Linked DNA regions of Homo sapiens. The protein of the gene in region 1 purifies or fractionates together with the protein of each later gene. This does not show direct contact. Each region holds a gene or a part of one and is shown on either strand. Other genes may lie near its edges. The genes, in order: EIF4E3 and THEMIS2.

Region 1 (3,816 bases):
CTCCTGGGTTCAAACAATTCTCCTGCCTCAGTCTCCCAAGTAGCTGGGATTATAGGCACCTGCCACCACGCCTGGCTAGCTTTTTATATTTTTAGTAGAGATGGGGTTTCGCCATGTTGGCCAGGCTGGTCTTTAACTCCTGACCTCAGATGATCTGCCTGCCTCGGCCTCCCAAAGTGCTGGGATTACAGGCGTGAGCCACCATGCCTGACCTCTGTATCAATTACTAACTCTGCCATTGTAGCACTAAAGCAGCTATAGGTAATACGGAAACAAATGGGTATTGCTCTATGCTGATAAAACTTTATTTATGGACACTAAAATTTGATATTCATATAATTTTCATGTGTTACAAAATATACTTTTTCTTTTTTTTCCAACCACTGAAAAATGTAAAAAGCATTCTCAGCTATACCTATACAGAAACAGGAGAGCGGAGAGGGTAACACAGAGGGCAGATTTGGGCTCCAGCTTCCTGCTGTAAACAATTCTCACACCAGAAAAGACCTTTGTCACTCAGCTGTTCTGAAGAACTTAGCAGAATTGGCCAGGGTGGGGCTGGTCAGTGAGTGGAGTCTGTGCATTGTGAGTTTCTCAGTCAAATAATGTGTATCCATATCAAATGTAAGTTATCAATGGCCCAATGCCCATCTACCCGCTAGAGGCCATGACTGAATATGCTTGGGTTCTTTCTACATGGAAAATCTACAGTCACCTGGCTTATGTAAACTTGGGAATACTTACACTAGGATCCTATTAACCAAACCAGAGTAAAAGCATACATTGGCCATTTCTAACTTAGCTTACCCTGCTGTGAAAAAGATTTCAGCCCAAATCTTATTTTTCCAAATTACTTCTGCAGCAAGTAGTGTATACCCTGCTGAGTAAAGGACTGCCTGCTTTGTTTACAATAAAGAAAACTGCTTGTTTTTTTTCAAATTCAGATTTTTATTTGAACAATCTTTGAGTTTTTAAATGCCAATTTATGCCCTTAAAGTATGAATTTCTGCTGAGACCCTTCCTCAGTTCTGTATTACATACTTTGCAATGGCCCCTACCTTTAGGTATCTATTTGATTTAACTGGCCAAGTTGCAGTTTTCTTTCCCCTTGTTTGGCTTTTTTCTTTCCCAGAGCCATCACAACAGCTAAGCAGTGAATCATCCTGCCCTTTGACAATCTTATCTGATTATTGCCATGGCCCTAAAAACTAGCCTAACCACTTTGTGGCCTTATTATCTGATAAAACAGATATCTTATTATCTGTGTTGAGCCTGCTGCTAACCAATGTGCTACCTGGAAACTTAATCATAGAATTTTGCAGTAGAAGGAACCTTGGAGATCATCTAAGACCAACCTCCTCGATACTCAGATGAGAAAGGTAAAGGATGAGAAGTTGTGACTTGCTCAAGGTCACACTGGTGAAGTGGGACAAAAACCTAAAGTGCCTGACTTAACGACCCCAAATTGGTGTTCTCCTCTTTAGAGTCAAGTGTGGAGCTGGTTCAAAGGTGGGAAAAAATGTTTTAGCCCCATACATAAATGCCAATGAAATACACTTCCGTCTATAGAGTTTCTGCTAGTCTTGTGAAATAAAAAAAAAGAAAAAACCCTTGATGACCTTTCAATTAATATCTGGGGTGAAAATACAATTAAAGTATCCCTAAAGAATAAAAATGGCATCGGCAAATTGGCAACTTCTACACCACGCAGCCAATAAGCAACTTCTGCAGTGCCATTTTTCTGTCTCTTTTAAACTTCCATTTAAAATTCAGAATATCTGTAGTGCCAGATCAGTCCCACTGCTTAACATCTAGGTCATTTGGCCTGTAATTATATGATTCCTTACAGGGAGGCCTTAGTGTTAATATCCCCTGTCATACTAGGATACTCACAAAACAAAATTTGATTTTTTTATCCTTTTTTGGCAAAGAGTTGGAAAAAGTGAAGCAATAATGAAATGTATTTCAGCAATTCTAAGACGCACTCCTCACAACTACCACACATATATTTGAAGACCTCTGGTACCAATAATGTGTTACAGTTTAATTGGGAGCCTTTTATTTTTCTTTTTCAGTAATACTAAAATAATGGAGCATTTTATCTTCAAGAGCATCTTAGATTCAATGAAATACGGTAGTTAAAAAATGGGTTACTGACTCCAGGAACAGTTTTGGATATAGGAAATTTATCATACATGTGTAGGGCTGTCGTCCTTTTCTCTAACTCTGTTAAATGTGTGACCTGCAGTCTGATCTACCAAACATTGGTTTAATAGCACTAAGATGTTTTCATTATGAAAAAGAAGACTTTTTCAAAAGAGCACACAAAAGCAATGAAAATGAATCATGATGGAAAACAATGGGTCCACACACCTATTCATACTGTTAACATTTCACCACTAGGCGTGAATTCTCCCTCAGTTCTGTGTCATAGTCATTCATAATGAGGAAGTATTAGCATTTCAGTAGAACATTCAATCACGCCTGTGCTCAGAATGCATTTCTTCTGCAAATACAGATGTTATACATTATAAATTCCTGTTTATGAAGGGATGATTGAATATCTACCTGCCAGTTCATATAATGACATTTTTGTTATTGTTGTTTCCAATAGAATGTAATTTTTTTTCTGAGAATTACAAATTTGAGTTCAGGTACAAATTTTTGAAATAACAAATACAATATTTGTTATTTCGTTTTCTGATCCACGCAGTTAGGCAAGAATAAAATCTTACTTTAATTTCTGAGACTAAGCTTGTTTTTTTTAAAAAAAAAAAAAACTTAAATGTATTTTGTTGAATTATTTTCTGAATTATCAAATTTCAAGTAAATCTGCCTTCACCACATTTGCAAAACAGTTTCTATCTTTAAAAGTATGATAGAGTAAGCTAGAAAGTAATAACTGGAAATGAAGCACTTACGTTTATAAAATACTGCTTTAAAAGTTATGTGGGGCAGAAGTTCATAGATCTTTTCTAAAACAGTCGCTTCACCCACTAAAGAGGCATTTACATTCCAGACTTGGACGACGTCTTCTCGGTCCCGAACACTGACACTAACTCCTATTACTTCATCATCTGAGGGGAAGACAGGAAAAAAAAAAAATGAGTGATACTTCCAAGTCAGTCTGACTGTTTCTAAGAACTTAGTCTTTTTATCTGAAAATTAAGGATAAGATGGAAAAAAGAAGGTGGCACAAGATAACTTGTAAGAAATAATTGTTTCTATGGGGAATCACTGGAGGAAAGCAAGTCAGTGCACAAAAGCTGTAGCAGTCACATCACATTTATCCAGGGACTTAGATAAAGTGTTCCAGCCAAATGCATTTTCCAGATAAGTAATTTACCCTTTTTAACATTACCAAAGCTTTGTGACTATTTCTTACTCTGTTTTGATGAGACTTTTTCTAAAATGGGTTGCATAATTCCCTGCCCTCTGAAAGCCAAGTGAACTGAAATGAACTTTTCCTTGATGCCTTGCTGTCTTTGTTAAGGAGAGCAAGAATTTCTCCTGACTTCCTGCCAAGCTTTCAGGGACCTTGGAGTGGTCAGCGCTATCTGCCCCAACACGAACTGGAGCCAGATTGTGCATTCTCGACTGCTCATCTGCTTTCTGCGGTTTACTTGTCTGCTCCTTTCCTATGAATTCTTCCTGCTTCCTGATGCCTCCCTCTAGAAATCCCTTTTCTGGTTTTGGGCATTATATACTGTGGGCTAGAGAGCCAATGACCATCTGTTAGCACTGTGTATAGAGTGAGAGTAAAATCTTCTGAGTACAGCTCTGCTATTATAGGATCGTCCTTCAATGAATGAACGT
Region 2 (3,816 bases), on another chromosome or scaffold:
ACTCATCTCCTCCACGAAACTGCCAGGGAAGTGGAAGGGCAGCAGGACCCGCTCTGGGCTCTCTGCCTCCTCTTTGCACTCTTCCTCCTCATCCTCCCCAGCCTGGTCACTCAGCCGCTGACAAACCAAGACATCCACGTCACTGCCCTGGGCCCCATGGGCCTGGCCAGGCCCCAGCACCTCCAGCCGGTCACCCACAGCCAGGGACGTGAACTCGGGATTCTCCTCCCTCTCGCCCTCACAGTCCTTTGTGGCCACCACCCGGAGTGGCCGGCCTGGCTGGAAAGCACCTAGGAGGTCATAGGCCGTGGGGAACTCCCTTGGCCGCCGCCGCAGCTTGCCTTGGTAGCCCCCTGACACCAGGAAGTGCCTGGGCACCTTGCGGCCCTTGCTTGAGGCCAGGACCCGCCAGGGTGGTGAGGCTAGGCCATAGACGCAAAGCCTCTGGCCTTTTTGCAAGGAGCCCACCCACGGGCTGAGGAAGATGGGGCGGCCCTCAGGAACCTCCAGGATCTCCATGGACAGGGGGAAAGGGCCTTCCCAGGCCAGGACCTCGCTCAGCAGCAGCGGTTTGATAAAGTGGACGTGCCGGGAGGAGGCGGTGACGTCCTCCACGTCGACCTCCAGGGTAGAAGGGATCTTGACAATGGTCCTGCGCACTGTGGAGAGGGGCAGCTCAGTGGCACTGCATGCCACCCCAGGAGTGGCCCCCACCCCAGGCATAGAGCATTGGCTGGGCCGGCTGGCCTCCCTCCCGCTGCTGTCTTTTCTTTCTTTTTTTTTTTTTGAGATGGAGTTTCACTCGAGATGGAGTGCCCTTGTCGCACAGGCTGGAATGCAATGGCACAGTCTCGGCTCACTGCAACCTCCACCTCCCAGATTCAAGCAGTTCTTCCACCTCAGCCTCCCGAGTAGCTGGGATTACAGGCGCCCGCCACCATGCCCAGCTAATTTTTGTAGTTTTAGTAGAGATGGGGTTTCACCATGTTGGCCAGGCTGGTCTCGAACTCCTGTCCTCAGGTGATCCTCCCACCTTGGCCTCCCAAAGTGCTGGGATTACAGGCATGAGCCACCACGCCCGGCCCCCGCTGCCATCTTTTCTTTCCAATCAGAATCTTCCAATTTACACTACGCCACATTCCCACACATGCTTTCCCTTCAACCTTCTTTTTTTTTTTGAGATGGAGTCTCGCTCTTGTCGCTCAGGCTGGAGTGCAGTGGTGCGATCTTGGCTCACTGCAAGCTCTAGCCCCTGGGTTCACGCCATTCTCCTGCCTCAGCCTCCCAAGTAGCTGGGACTACAGGTGCCCGCCACCACACCCGGCTAATTTTTTTGTATTTTTAGTAGAGACGGGGTTTCACCATGTTAGCCAGGATGGTCTTGATCTCCTGACCTCGTGATCCACCTGCCTCGGCCTCCCAAAGTTCTAGGATTACAGGCGTGAGCCACTGTGCTTGGCCCCAACCTTCTTAAAAAAATTACTATTTTTATTTTTTTTCCTCCAAGTATTAAGAAAAAAGAAAAATAAATTTTAAAATTATTATTTTTAGGCTGTGCTCGGTGGCTCACGCCTGTAATCCCAGCACTCTGGGAGGCCGAGGTGGGCAGATCACCTGAGGTCAGGAGTTCCAGACCAGCCTGGCCGATATGGCGAAACCCTGTCTCTACTAAATATACAAAAAAATTATCTGGGCATGGTGGCGGGCGCCTATAATCCCAACTACTAGGGAGGCTGAGGCAAGAGAATCGCTTGAACCTGGGAGATGGAGGTTGCAGTGAGCTGAGATCAACCATTGTACTCCAGCCTGGGTGACAGAGCAAGACTCTGCTTCAAAAAAGAGAGAGATGAGGTCTCGCCCTGTTGCCCAGGCTGGAGTGCAAGGGTGTGATCATAGCTCACTACAACCTTGAACTCCTGGGCTCAAGTGATCCTCCTGCCTCAGCCTCCAGAGTAGCTGCTACTACAAGCACTAAGCCTAGCTAATTTTTTAAAAAAATTTTTGTAGAGATGGGGGTCTTGCTATGTTGCCTAGTCTGGTCTGGAACACCTGAGATCAAGCGATCCTCCAAAGTGCTGGTATTACATGCGTGAGCCACTGCACCTGGCGTAGCCGAGATAATTTGAGCATCAATAAGAATAACTGGCCAGGAACGGTGGCTCACGCCTGTAATCCCAGCACTTTGGGAGGCCAAGGCGGGTGGACCACCTGAGGTCAGGAGTTCAAGACCTGCCTCGCTAACATGGTGACACTCCGTTTCTACTAAAAATACAAAAAATTAGCCGGGCATGGTGGTGCACGCCTGTAATCCCAGCTACTCGGGAGGCTGAGGCAGGAGAATCGCTTGACTCTGGAGGGTGAGCCAAGATCACACCATTGCACTCCAGCTTGGGCAACAAGAGCGAAACTCCATCTCAAAAAAAAAGAATAACTTCAGTGTAATACAGAGGGAGCAACCTGAAGTTCCAGCTGATCCTCAGGGATGGGGTGGGGGTGTCTTCCATCAGAGCAGCTCCCAGGGGCAACCCTCTTTCTCTCCCCCAGCAGCGCGCATCCATCTGCCCAGGCAACTCACTGTGCATGATGGCTTGGATCTCATACTGGGGCCGCAGGATCAGGGAATGCCAGGGCAGGGTGGGGCAGGTGAGGACGAGGTCTTTCAGGGCTGGATCCTGTAGGACCTGGAGCAGAGTTCGAGGGGCACTAGGCTCCCATGTCCAGAAGGGCCCCTTCTGGGATAGGGGCAGGTGCAGGATGACCTGCTGACCCTCCATGCCCAGGACACAGCGGGCAGAGCGGATCCCGAGGTGCATCACCACAGCCTCAAGCATGAGGAGCTGGTCCTCAGTCACCACCCTGCCCTCTGTGACAATCCTGTGGGTCGACATGAAGCAAGTGGGCAGCTGCTTGGAGCTCTGAGTTGTGGCAGAGACCAGCTCCTCCAGGGTTTCATAGCTCTGTGGGGTGTTGAGGGGGGTGAAGTAGCCTGTGGGGGACAGCAGAGAGCAGGCAGGTCACTGTGGGGTGTCAGGGTGGGGCAGGCCTTTGTCAGGTCCAGACCCCAGTCTGGCCCTGCAGATGACCCAGCCAGAATCCCCCAGGGACAGGTGTCAATGACAGATTTGCATCTGGACATCTGGGCTGCAGGGCTGAGGGACACAGGGCAGAAAGTGGCAGTGCATGAAGGGACAGGGAGAGACAGGAAGTAGGAACCGAGAGAGACTTGTCACCAGAGACACAGAGAATGGAAGAGGGACACATTCCCTGACAGACACACTAGACTTCCACACTCTCCAAGCTCCTGACCCTACCTGCCTCTAACTGCCATCTTAGCCTTTCCTCCAGATGCCTCTCCACAGGTCCGATCCCACTCATCCAAAACCTGCCGTCCCTCTCTCCCAAACGAACATCCCAGGAGCTGCTGGCCAGAGCCACCTCAGACCACCCACTTTACCCCTGCATCCTGGCTGCCAATAGTGACTGCCCGACTGTCCCTGCACCCCCTCCCTCCAGCCCCCACCCATTCCGCCAGCAGCTGGCCTAAATACCTCGCTTCCAGACATGATACCGCTTTTGGGAAGCAAGCTTTTCCTGCCCCAAACCCACAACCTGAAGCTAATCGAGGAAACACTGCACAAGCTGGGACTGAGGGATATTCTACATAAGTACTGGTCCAGATGCTTCAAAATGTCAATGTCAAGACAAAGGCAGAGGAACTGTTCCAGTCTGAAGGAGAATGAAGAAACAGGACAACTGAATATGATGTGTGATCTAGGACTGGACTCTGGATTGAGGGGAAAAACTGCTATAAAGCAT

What was found.
Region 2: the proteins of EIF4E3 (region 1) and THEMIS2 purify together in Homo sapiens (affinity purification with mass spectrometry; 3 studies listed by BioGRID and IntAct, with this or other methods). This does not show direct contact.

What each region holds. Positions count from the first base shown.
Region 1 is NC_000003.12:71,687,089-71,690,904, forward strand, and holds part of EIF4E3 (eukaryotic translation initiation factor 4E type 3), read right to left. Parts: intron 3,078-3,816; coding exon 2,922-3,077; intron 1-2,921. UniProt on the Homo sapiens protein: Recognizes and binds the 7-methylguanosine-containing mRNA cap during an early step in the initiation of protein synthesis. May act as an inhibitor of EIF4E1 activity.
Region 2 is NC_000001.11:27,878,814-27,882,629, reverse strand, and holds part of THEMIS2 (protein THEMIS2), read right to left. Parts: intron 2,987-3,816; coding exon 2,576-2,986; intron 660-2,575; coding exon 1-659. UniProt on the Homo sapiens protein: May constitute a control point in macrophage inflammatory response, promoting LPS-induced TLR4-mediated TNF production. Determines the threshold for activation of B cells by low-affinity and low-avidity ligands via PLCG2 activation and its downstream pathways.